Linked DNA regions of Homo sapiens. The protein of the gene in region 1 interacts with the protein of each later gene in a pairwise test. Each region holds a gene or a part of one and is shown on either strand. Other genes may lie near its edges. The genes, in order: SLC35B4 and EBAG9.

Region 1 (4,403 bases):
AGACCATTCCTGCGTGTAATGACAGGCCCAGGGCTGTTTAAGAACATCCAGCCCTGTCCTGATAAAACAGTAATGCCATTTTTAAAGAGATGAATTTTAACTATGCTATATTTAGTGCAAAATTTCTCATTTGTTTTTCTTTTTGTGTTCTGTACCTGGGGGCTACTGCATAACATGATTAAAAGTAGGCTGGGTGAGGTAAACTGCTTTGAAGAGTTACTTTCCAGCTGAGGTTTATTTAAAAGCAACATATCAAAGACAAAGAGAGCTGGTCACTGCAGCTGACAAAAGTCAGTGTATTTCTATCAAGGCAAAGAGGTTTTGAGAGATTTGCTATAGAATGTACTGCCACAAACCTCTAAAACTTCCAAAAGTAGGCTGATCCTCTGTAAACTAATTTCTGGCGCAGAAACCAGCCTGAGAAGTGGTTTATTACTGATCCAGCTGCGAGGCATTAGGAAGAGAGATTGCTGACAATCGTTTGTAGTAAAATATGCCACCACCACTATACAAGGTAAAAATTGGAGAGCTTTTGAAACTGCACACAGGCACTTCAAAGGTAATGGTGATTGGAAACACCTGCAAGAAATTTATCACTTTTATTAAGAAACAATGATGGTACAATTCAAGATAAACCCCAGATGTCTGATGAGTTGTTTCAGAAGGTAAAAAATAGCTCTCTATAAGAAATAATGGCAAAAAGACTCATTCAGTTTGGCAAAACATTTTATTCACAAAATCTCCCATTCCTCCTTAACTCTCTGCTCAAATAACTCTTAAGGCTGGAAGCCGATGTTTGATATTTACACAGCTCAAAATCTGAATACCCACTAATGTCTTGTAGCTGTTCTACGTACTCTCAGCTTTCTACTCCCTCCTCCCCCATCTTTGTTCTTAAAACCTAATGGTAATACTGTATGAAGAGCTCAGACGGGATGAATAAAATCCCCGCCGTCCCTCCCCACCACATAATTTGTTAGGAAATCCTACTTCTAAAATCATCATCTTTTTTTGGAGAATGAGGCCATTCTCTGGAATGAAAGCAACTGGCACAGAAATGACTGGCAATCGCAAGTGATACACAAAGGCATTTTTATTGCGCCGGGGAATAACCACTACTGCTCTCTTTGGTTCACAAGAGTCATCTATGCATTTCAAAAGATATCAGTAAGTCAATGTGCCAAAGAAATTATTACAACTTCTTTCTTAGAAAGTATCAGTATTTCTGCTTTTCTTTTTTCACGTATCTCTGGCTCCCTTGCAACTTGCCTCACTTGATTAAAATTGACAAATTTTGGTAGGACGGTTACCAATTTAAGTAGGTAAGGCTCAGGGGAGGTGTCTCAGTATGATACTGAGATCAGACCAACAGACAGTGATCTCCAGGCATCAGCTTCAGCTGCTACAAGCTAACTGTACCAACTATGGAGATGTAAGGGTGGGGCTGGTCACCCCAAGCAGCCTACTTCAAAAACTTTTAAGAATCTTTAATGTTCTATTAGGGATCTTCTTGCACTTTCTTCCTGAGCATCAAATATGTAAGGTGCTAACTACATAATACTCTTCCCTTCTACCACCAGGCAATCCAGAGCCAAAAGTGAGGTAGCAGGCTGCACACTGAGCAATCTCTGGTGTACCTCCTCCCAATAGTCGTTCTTCCTTCTCTTGCTTGGAATGTTAAAAATGTTTCCCCTTATTTGCTTTCTTGCCAACCCGCTGATGAGGAGTGGGAACAGGTATCACGAACCCTCAGGTTTTCCAGAAACTTGAGGGAAGAAGAGATCTTGGCAAGCATTCATTTATTCACATAACATAAGCCAGACACTATGCCAGGGGCTGGCGATACAGAAATGAGTAAGACATGATCCCTGGCCCCTCCCATCCCTGGAATGTCTACTAGGAAGAAGCTGCTAGAAAAAGACAACATGCTACTTTAAAGCCAAGAGGGGCCAGTCTCCCATTCCAGCTTGGTACACACTGAACACATTTGAGGCTTATGACTGGTTCTTTTACTTACAAATATTGTTTAGACACATTTTCAAATGTCACACCAATCAATAATAATAAGGAATGGATTTTATCTATATTGACAGTTCTTTCAACCTTAAGAGTGAACTGCTACAGGTAAGATTCAATCACATTTTTCAGGAGAAAGCTATTGAGACCAATATGCTTTGGTTATCTAATAAGGGTGGAATGACTTATAATGCTATTTACTCCAGGCAAAGAGAAAATACAACAGACATAGGATCTTGATTTCAACGTAGTTCTCCTCCATGTGCATTTCTCTGTCCGTTTAGGTCAATGCCAACTGGTCCACCAGTGAACATGTCCACCGGCCCTGAGCTAACTCATTGGTTTATTATTCCTGACCTAAGGTGTTTTACTTCCCCTCTCCATAGGTATCTGGCACTGTTGAGTGAAGCCAGTTAATGGGAAGGTAAAAATAGCAAAATAAGAGAGTATTGTTTCCCAAATAGAGAAGGGAATGGTGGTAGAGATTCTCAAATAGAGAAGGGAATGGTGGTAGAGATTCTCAGCCTCCATTTTGAGCTGTAACAGAATAAACAAACATTTCTACATTAACCCTTCACATTCATCGTCATCTACAGATATGGCATTCACACATTCTGCCAGATATTCTCACTATTATGAATGTACCCCCCAATATCAATGCTTGTAAGAATGTATAACAAAATACACGCTGTGCAGATATAAATACTCTGTAAAAATCCACAAAAACATCCAGGGGCCCCAAAGAAGAGAGGCATAAACAGATACAAGATGATAAGTCTTTCTTAGCAGAAAACGCTGCAAGTGAAGAAACTGGAGTGAAGAAAGTGGGGGAAGGAGTTCTGAAGTGAAACAGAGGAAAGCTGCTCAGGAGATGACTGCGGGATATTTATTAGAATCCTTGAAAAACATCACGCCATCTTTCCAGAAGAAGAGAAGAGGTTTACTCTGGGTGGCACAGACCAATTCAGCTTTCATGGTCTTCCTCCGTAGCACTGACCAAATCAAAATACTGCAGCGTTTCACTGTGGTTAACAGGATGGAAAGGAGGAAAAAACTAAAAACAAAGTATTTGGATTTGTCTAAATACTTTAGAACTTGATATAAATGTATCAAGTACATTACAGTTGTTTTAGTTGGACGAAAAAGAAAACAAAGAATCAAAAATAAATTACTAATAAACATGAAAAAGATAACATGTTTCTAATATGACAATAGAGTTTTGGCCAAAGATATGTAGACATTAAGCTAATACAATTCAAATATCCACCATCTTCAGTTACCTTATCTGTTACACTGTCAAGTTGTTCAGCAGGCACACAGGTGCACACACACACACTGTATTTTCTGGCTAGTGTCCTTTGCTATTTGATTTTTGCTCTAGCATAGAGTTTTGGATGTCTTAAAAACTAAACTCTTTGTAAACAAACAGTATCTTCATCTCTGAAGCATAAAATTACATGGTCTTGACCCAGAGAAAGAGGAGAGACATTTAATAGACATTTCTCTTCCAGTTAAGTAGGAGTCTGATCTTCTACAAAATAGTTTATTTGTCTTTTTAATAAAGGTTGAAAAAATGTCCACCCTGGATTAAAAAATCAGTTAACCAAGGGGAACGTATTTTTTTTTTAAAGAGTAGTTTTAAAAAGTATTAACTGGTGTCCATTAGACATATTTCCTTATATTCAGCTACTAGAGAAAAAACAGTTCCCAGGGAATTTGGGGCTTTCTGCTTCTATATGTGGTCATCTTGTGCGAGTGTTCTAATCTAATCTATTCCCTGCCCATACATAGCCTCCTATTCATAAGACTGGCTGAGGTATTCACGCTGAGATGAATACACATGCTCTAAGACCAGACGCGAAAACCTAATGGGCCCAAGTACTGTCTGTGAACATCAACACATACCCAATGAAGAAAACTTGTAATGTTTTCATCAACATAAAATGGGTGACATTATGTATGTGAGGCTGCATCCTATTAAGAGTTCAGAGACTCCAGATCCATAGCAATGAAGTCGCCTCTAGGGACAGGTTCTTCTATTAAGTGGTAAGAAAAAAGTAGCTTTTGTTGCTTTTAAAAGGTTATTTAACACTTGGATATTTCTAGCACCGTCAATTCTGAGGAACTCTACATATTTCAAAGCAAGTGGCTTTTGATCCTATGAATAGGTTCACTTCTAATTCAGCATCCTTCAGAAGAGCCCATTACTGGCTCTAGAAAGCTGTCAATGTCCAGAGCAACACATTATTACTCTGTAAACTCAGTGATTTAGGTGGAGAAATAATATCCACATTTTAAGTAACAAAAACCCGAGGCAGCTTAAATGACTTCTCCAAGCGACCTGGTGACTCTAGGACATTTATCTCCACTGCTGTTGCTCAAATCCA
Region 2 (7,304 bases), on another chromosome or scaffold:
AAATAATCTACCATTAGGGTTAATCTCTCATTTTAATGGTAATCTCTCTGATGTTTATATTTTTAAATAACATTGTATCTCTATCTTTCATGTGTACAATGAGACCTTGATCTTAGTATCTAAGGTAATTTACAATCTCATAAAAGGTTAGGATTGGTAAAACTCCAGATTAACTTCTATCAAACTGCTAAACCTGTTTCAAAGTTACAAAAATATAAATACTATGTTAAACTCATTTAGATTTTATTCCTCTGCTTTAAAGAAAACAGAAATACAACAAAACCCTTCCCTAGAACCATTAACATACTTACAGACTGATGAATAAAAGGCAGATCTTGTGTAGCTGCTAATCTACTAGAGAAACCTGTGCTCCCATCTGGGATGCCAAAATTCAATGGTTCTCTCTTCTTAATAACAATCTGAAAGATTAATTGAAAAAGAATTATAGGGATCTTTTACAAATCACTACATAAAAATAGACAACCAAAACATTTTCTAATTACTTAAAATATTTCTTCTTAAAATTTATAATGTAAAAACTAAAAAAAAAGTCTGTAAATACCAATTTCCCAGGGAATTGTTGTACAAATCAGTTACATACTAAGAAAAATTGTATTTCACTTTTAAAAATTAATACAGGCCCATTTTCTTTCTTTCTATCCTACTTTCCCCAGACCTCAAAATATAATCAATCACTTTTAGTTACTGTATTAAATAACAACAGGTATCATATCCTGCCAATAGTATTAACAACTCTCTCAGCATGTGAGATACCTATGAATACATTAACTCATTCAGGCCAGTAGCATCAAAATACACTTATATGATATGTTGGTAGCCTCATTTAAAGCATTTCCATTCTAACTAATTTAATAAGGCACTATAGCAATATACTAGGTTCCTACTGAGAGCAGCAGTATACTTCCACAATGCAAGGTATTCATCTATTAAGAAACTCACTTAAAGGATCCTTTAAAAATACACAATTTAATGTGTTTTAGCATTGAGACATTTGGACAACTCAACAACAAAGAATGTAAATGTTATCAACCTAGACAATGTAAATATAAATGTATAGCTGAAATCAGCTGAGAGAAAGAAGGTGAGGAACAACTGTATTAGAAAATGTGAAATAATGTCCTAATTTTTATGAAGTGTGTATGTGTGTGTGTTTATATATATATATGATAAAAATATTTTCTATGTTTGAATAAGAAAGTGAACTTTAAGTGTGTTTTTCTGATATAGCAGAGTGATTAGTGAGGTAGACTGGAATAAAGGAGAGGGAATGGTAGTAAGAAATAAATCTTCATTTACCATAGTATGAATGTCAGTGGACAATGTCTGTTACTGGTAAACAAGAAATGGCAATATAACCATATAGATAGATACGATGACAAACACTTGAAGAAATCCAAACAGAAAATTATTGAGTGGCTGTTTCTTGGAAGAACTGGCTAAGAGTGATGGGTCAGAAGTCTCACTTTTCATTATAAGTTCTTCTACAGTTTTTGATTTAAAAAAAGTACATGTACTATTTTGATAAATAAAAACGAAAATACTCAAGCATTCTGTTTTTTCCAGTAATTCCCTGCATCTCTAAATGATCTTCCATATTCAATTCAAAAGGGATTAAATAATGTATGGATGACTAACACAAACTCACAATTACTCTTAAGTTCTTAGAGTCCTGCATCAGTTTTATAATGGTTACAAACAATAAACTCTACCTATCAGTTTGTAGATATTACTGAAGTACAAACTTGTTAGAACTCTTATCCAATTCACCTTAGTCTCCATGGCAGAGACTGGAGTCTAGAATCTGACATATAGTAGGATTTCGATACATATATAAATATAATTTTAAAAGACTTGGGGTACAACTTACTAGAACTATGTCTAGGTCATTTGAACATATAAAATTCTTACTTAACATGACAGAAAACAAACAACTGATAATTAGAAATATGCTGATAGACTGGATTAAGAAAATGTGGCACATATACACCATAGAATACTATGCAGCCATAAAAAAGGATGAGTTCATGTCCTCCATAGGGACATGGATGAAGATGGAAACCATCATTCTCAGCAAACTATCGCAAGGACAAAAAACCAAACACTGCATGTTGTCACTCATAGGTGGGAACTGAACAATGAGAACACATGGACATAGGAAGGGGAACATCATACACTGGGGCCTGTTGTGGGGTTGGGGGAGAGGGGAGGGATAGCATTAGGGACATACCTAATGTTAAATGACGAGTTGATGGGTGCAGCACACCAACATGGCACATGTATACATATGTAACTAACCTGCATGTTGTGCACATGTACCCTAAAACTTAAAGTATTAAAAAAAAAAAAAGAAATAGGCTTTCTAATAAATGTGAATTGTATCACCTAATTTTAACTATAGGAATCTAAAAAGTAGTTTAATCTCCAAAAGCATAAATCTTAACATACTTTCTGAGTTTTCCTAATAGTTGGTGTCATGTCCTTAAAATAGTCAGGTTCCAGTTGTTCCAAAGAATTTTGTTGTGTTGCCACATTCCCATTCCCTCCTTCGATCTTTACACTGGTGGGTGCATCTTCATCCCAGGAAGTCCACTCTTCAACATCTGTCTAAATTTAATTGATCAACATTATCAGCCACAAAGGGGCAACTTAATGAACACATCATTGATGATTTATTAGAAAAATGGGCTTTCTAAAACACTGGTTTTCAAACTTTTTTAACCCACGGGAAAACATACATTTCATATCACAGATCAAAACTTGATCAAAAGTTCAAAAAATACAAGACATTCTGATATATTCTGTTCTATTTTATTCTATTATGTCCATCAAAAAACAAAAAACAAAGTAAAACGAAAGCAAATGCTCTGAAAACTGAACTGACATTAAAACTACAACTCACAGAAGGGCTGGACATTTTCACCCAAGCCTATCCAGATTGATCATCTGATAAAAAATACCAAGCTTCTCCACAGGATTTAAATAAGATGAAGTCTCAAAACATAGTATTCAAAATGTTCATGAAACAACCCAGAATTATTCAGCATATAAAAACAATACATCTAAATTTGCAAGGCAAGTTAATCAACAGATACCAACACCAAAATGATATGTTGGAATTCTCTAAGGCTTTAAAATAGCTATTATAAAAATGCTCCAACAAACAATAGCAAACACTTGAAACCAATGAAAACACAATAGAAAATGTCAACAAAGAAACAGAAGATAAAATGTAGAACCAAATAGAATTTTCAGACCAGATAAATTTAACAACACAACAAAAATTAATTTCTATTAATGATCTGCAATCCAGTTTTTAAAATATTGTTCTAGGACACTTATTCAATCTTTCAAAACAAAACAAAACAAAAGAACACACAAAAAAAACCTACCTGCTTAGGAACTGATGAATAATCAACTGTAGTTGGCAAAGTTATTTGGTCTCCACTTAATTTCCGTCCTCTGCCAGATCTGAAACAAAAATGAAATAATTTATTTCAAGAACCACCAAAACAAGCAAAGTAAAAGCACTATTATGTATGGTAATTGAAGGCTTATAAAACAAGATCTTTCTCAATTTTATGATTATTGATTTTAGTAACAGTTACTCACTAATTTATGGTAAAAAAAAGTCATAAATCAGACATCCTGTGAATGTTTTTTAAATCTTGGACAGAACAACATAACTGCTTTTTGGCTTAGGACTCAGAATTATAAACAAACTCAAGAGGAATATAAAGTCAAAAATAAAAATGCAAGACGGTTTCAGAGCATGCTCCTTGGAGTGCTGTGGGTTCTGTGGGTGAAGTTCTGGGCCACCTTTGCTGTTTTAAACAGGGTGGCTTGGCTTTTATGTTTTACACATGGGGTTTCTTGATAAGATTAACTATTAAGAAGTTTAAAAATCACTAGTTTGAACCAAATGGTAACTTACTTTTAAGGATTAGTAGGAAAAGTACCACATTCAACAGGACGTACTATAACTCAGTTGTTAAGAACATGGGCTGTGGAATCTGTGTAAACCACAGTTTTCAATGTTACTTCTATTATGTCTAGTTAGAATTACCTACTTTTCAGCCTCAACAGCCTCATCTATAAAATGCAGGTATTCAAACCCACTTTTGCAGGGTTGTTTGGATTTAATTAAGTGACATATTTAAAAACCCTAGACAGTGTGTGCCTGCTACATAGCACAACATACAAAAAATGGCAGGTAATAGAGATAATTAGTCATTTACTTCACTTCAAATAATCTATAAAAAAAAAAAGCATCAACTAAGAACTAAGAACGATAAAGTCAGCTATTTTTATTACAGATTCAAAGCTATATTTGTTTAAAGGGTGAATAGAAAAGTAATATAGTCCTTTATGAAATTTATGATACAAGCGTGTTTTTCCTTTCCATAGAGATGGGGTCCTGCTGTGTTGCCCAGGCTGGTCTTGAACTCCTGGCCTCAAGCTATCCTACCCCCTCGGCCTCCCAAAGCATTGGGATTACAGGCATGAGCTACCATGCCTAGCCAAGTCTGGTATTTTAAAATACATGGTCTAAGGTTCCTTCAGACACCAAAGAGAAGCTTATCCTAACATATGGTCAGTTTTCTTTAAAACTGAACATACAATCAATTCTAAATATGTATACATTTACAACAGAAATTTATAGTGCCAATAGGAATGTCCTTAATATTTTTACATCAAGAAAATTTCTTATCCTAGAAGTAATCTATATTTAATGAAAATTTTAAAAAATAGAAGTATAAGAAGAAAACATCTACATTTCATCACCACTGTTAACACAATGCTTCTTTTAACTTCCTGCCTTCTGGCAATTAATACCCATTTTTAATGTTGCTTTACCTGGTGAATTTCTGGCCATTCTCTTCCTCATTCTCTGGTAATTTGAACACTTAGTTTGCTCCTTTTTCTACTTCCCAAATCCTATCCTCTTGGGTGATTTCAAGTCAACCACCTAAATTTTCCATTTCTTTCTTCACTTCTGCCCCAGTGATCATCCAGAGATGATCATTTCACCCACTTGTTCTCTTGCAATACCCTGGATTTTTTTTTTTTTTTTAAATCCCAGACCACTCTACTTTTAGCAATAAGTTCAATTTAGCAGCTATCAAATGGTCATATAGCCAGAGACTGCAGTTCCTATCCTTCCTTGCAGCTAGGGGGCCATATGACTAAGCTCTGGAAAGCAGGCAGTGCAAAAATTGTTGTGTGTAACCTCTAAGTCATGTCTATATATATTAAAAAAAGAGCTGATTGCTGTCCATTTCCTCTTTTACTATACCCTCCTCTTAGTATGTAAGTAACTTTTTCACAGTACCCTTAGGCCACAGAAACACCTAACAATTCCACTGAATAAGGTAGTTACACCCAAAAAACTTAAGTATATCCTAACTGCTTAGTAGCCATTGTAAAAAATACACATTTAAAGAAAAAGTAATATTTTTATTTTATTCTTAAATAACCACAATCACTGAACTTATTAATGAAATTTGTGTGCCTGTTGAACACTGCACAGCTTCTTATGCCTTAGAATAAGACTGGAGACCATCATTCTTGTTTTCAGTTCTACATTAATTTTGGTGCAGTACTCGCTTTTAATTACAACCTAAAATCCTGGCTTTGCAATGAGATGTCACCAAAAATATAAGTAAACAAAAACTTATCTCAAACATTAAAGAACACCATCATAAAAAAATACTGCAGGATTTAATGTTGCAAATGTGAACTACTTTGAGTTGAGGTATTCAACAGATGCTATCACTATGTTTCACTGCAAAATTTAAAATATTCTATGGCATCCCTGTGAATTTCATGTAAAGCCCTGAGGTGCCTCAGCACACATTTTAGACATCATAGCTCTTGGGTATGATCGTGTGACAAAACAGAAGGAACTGAAGTCTACAGATGATGTCCTAAAGCAAATGACTTACCTGCTCTTGACTTCCTGCATATTCTAGAATGTTACTCAAACAGAAAAAAAAATTTTTTTTTTTTAGGATTTTTCTTAGGATTTTTTTTTAAATATAAAAACAACACTATTGTAGTATAGACAGAAATACCTATTCCGAATTTCACCTAACCACTTTAAAACATTCCCATAATGAAACGAATACATCAAAGTTCTGTGATGATTATAATAATGAAAGTTGGTCTGTCTATTCCTAAATAGTATTAAGCATGTTATTTTAGTGGAAAGTGTAAGAATTTGAATGAACAAAACAACTGAACCTCTATTTTCTAGATCTGAAGTAGAGAAAAAGTATCTAAAAATGACTAGGAATTAATGAATAAATACTGCAATCAAGATATTCAGCTTAAATATAACCTGTCCTGTCCACGAAATTTGAAGTTTTGAAGGTATCCAAAACCAGCGAGGAGATAAACAGGTTAGTTTGAACATAAAACTTATTTACCTGCATATTAATCTCTTTAGGAATGAGAATACTGTTGCTAGGCAGGTACAAAATTTAAATAACCGAAACTGGGTGATGGCCATGGTGGGAATCAAAACCTGTGGAAGAGGCACAAAACAAAAAATGCATTAAATTGATTTCAAAAGTCATACTCCTGTCCTGAAAAGACCTATTATGCACTAAGAAAAATCTAAGATATTTTTTACCTTTCTCTAGAAACTATAACACAGTAAATTTTAAAATTATAATTTAAATCATATTAACAAGTCAAAAACCAGGTTTTCGAGTTTTCAATGGTTGTAAGGATAAAACCCTTCATTCTGAGTTTTTGAAAATAATTTTACCTAAATCTATTAATACAAAAATCTACAATTCAAAAAATAAAAAAGTATAAAATAGAATATATTAAATCTCTGTGTACCTTTTAAAGTTTGAACCACATGAACATAATACTATTTAAAATACTTTAAATATTTTTAACTTGCAGATGAATATATTTCCTTATATCCATTTTATAGATGAGGAAATTGAATTAAGAGAGGTCAAATAACTTGACCAAAGTCACATAGCTAGTAAATTGAAAGTTACCATGGAGCTCATTTAGTCCAGTGGTTCACAAATCTGGGAATCTATTAAAGAAATGCCAATACCTAGGAGTACCTCTAGTAAGTCCATTAAATCATATATTCTGAGGGGCAAGGACTGGTCATAACCAATAAGACAAGCAGGGAGATAAAAACTACTCAATTGAAAAGGCAGCAGGAAACAAAGAAAAGAGAACAAATAACACATGGGACAAGCCAAAAACAAATAAGATGACAGACGTAAATCTAACCATATCAATAATCTCATTAAATG

The links.
Region 2: the proteins of SLC35B4 (region 1) and EBAG9 interact in binary tests that used the Homo sapiens proteins (3 or more experiments, as listed by UniProt).

Annotation. Positions count from the first base shown.
Region 1 is NC_000007.14:134,288,624-134,293,026, forward strand, and holds the end of SLC35B4 (nucleotide sugar transporter SLC35B4), read right to left. Parts: 3' UTR 709-4,403; downstream 1-708. UniProt on the Homo sapiens protein: Antiporter that transports nucleotide sugars across the endoplasmic reticulum (ER) membrane in exchange for another nucleotide sugar.
Region 2 is NC_000008.11:109,550,050-109,557,353, reverse strand, and holds part of EBAG9 (receptor-binding cancer antigen expressed on SiSo cells), read right to left. Parts: intron 6,545-7,304; 5' UTR 6,530-6,544; coding exon 6,447-6,529; intron 3,490-6,446; coding exon 3,411-3,489; intron 2,626-3,410; coding exon 2,467-2,625; intron 420-2,466; coding exon 312-419; intron 1-311. UniProt on the Homo sapiens protein: May participate in suppression of cell proliferation and induces apoptotic cell death through activation of interleukin-1-beta converting enzyme (ICE)-like proteases.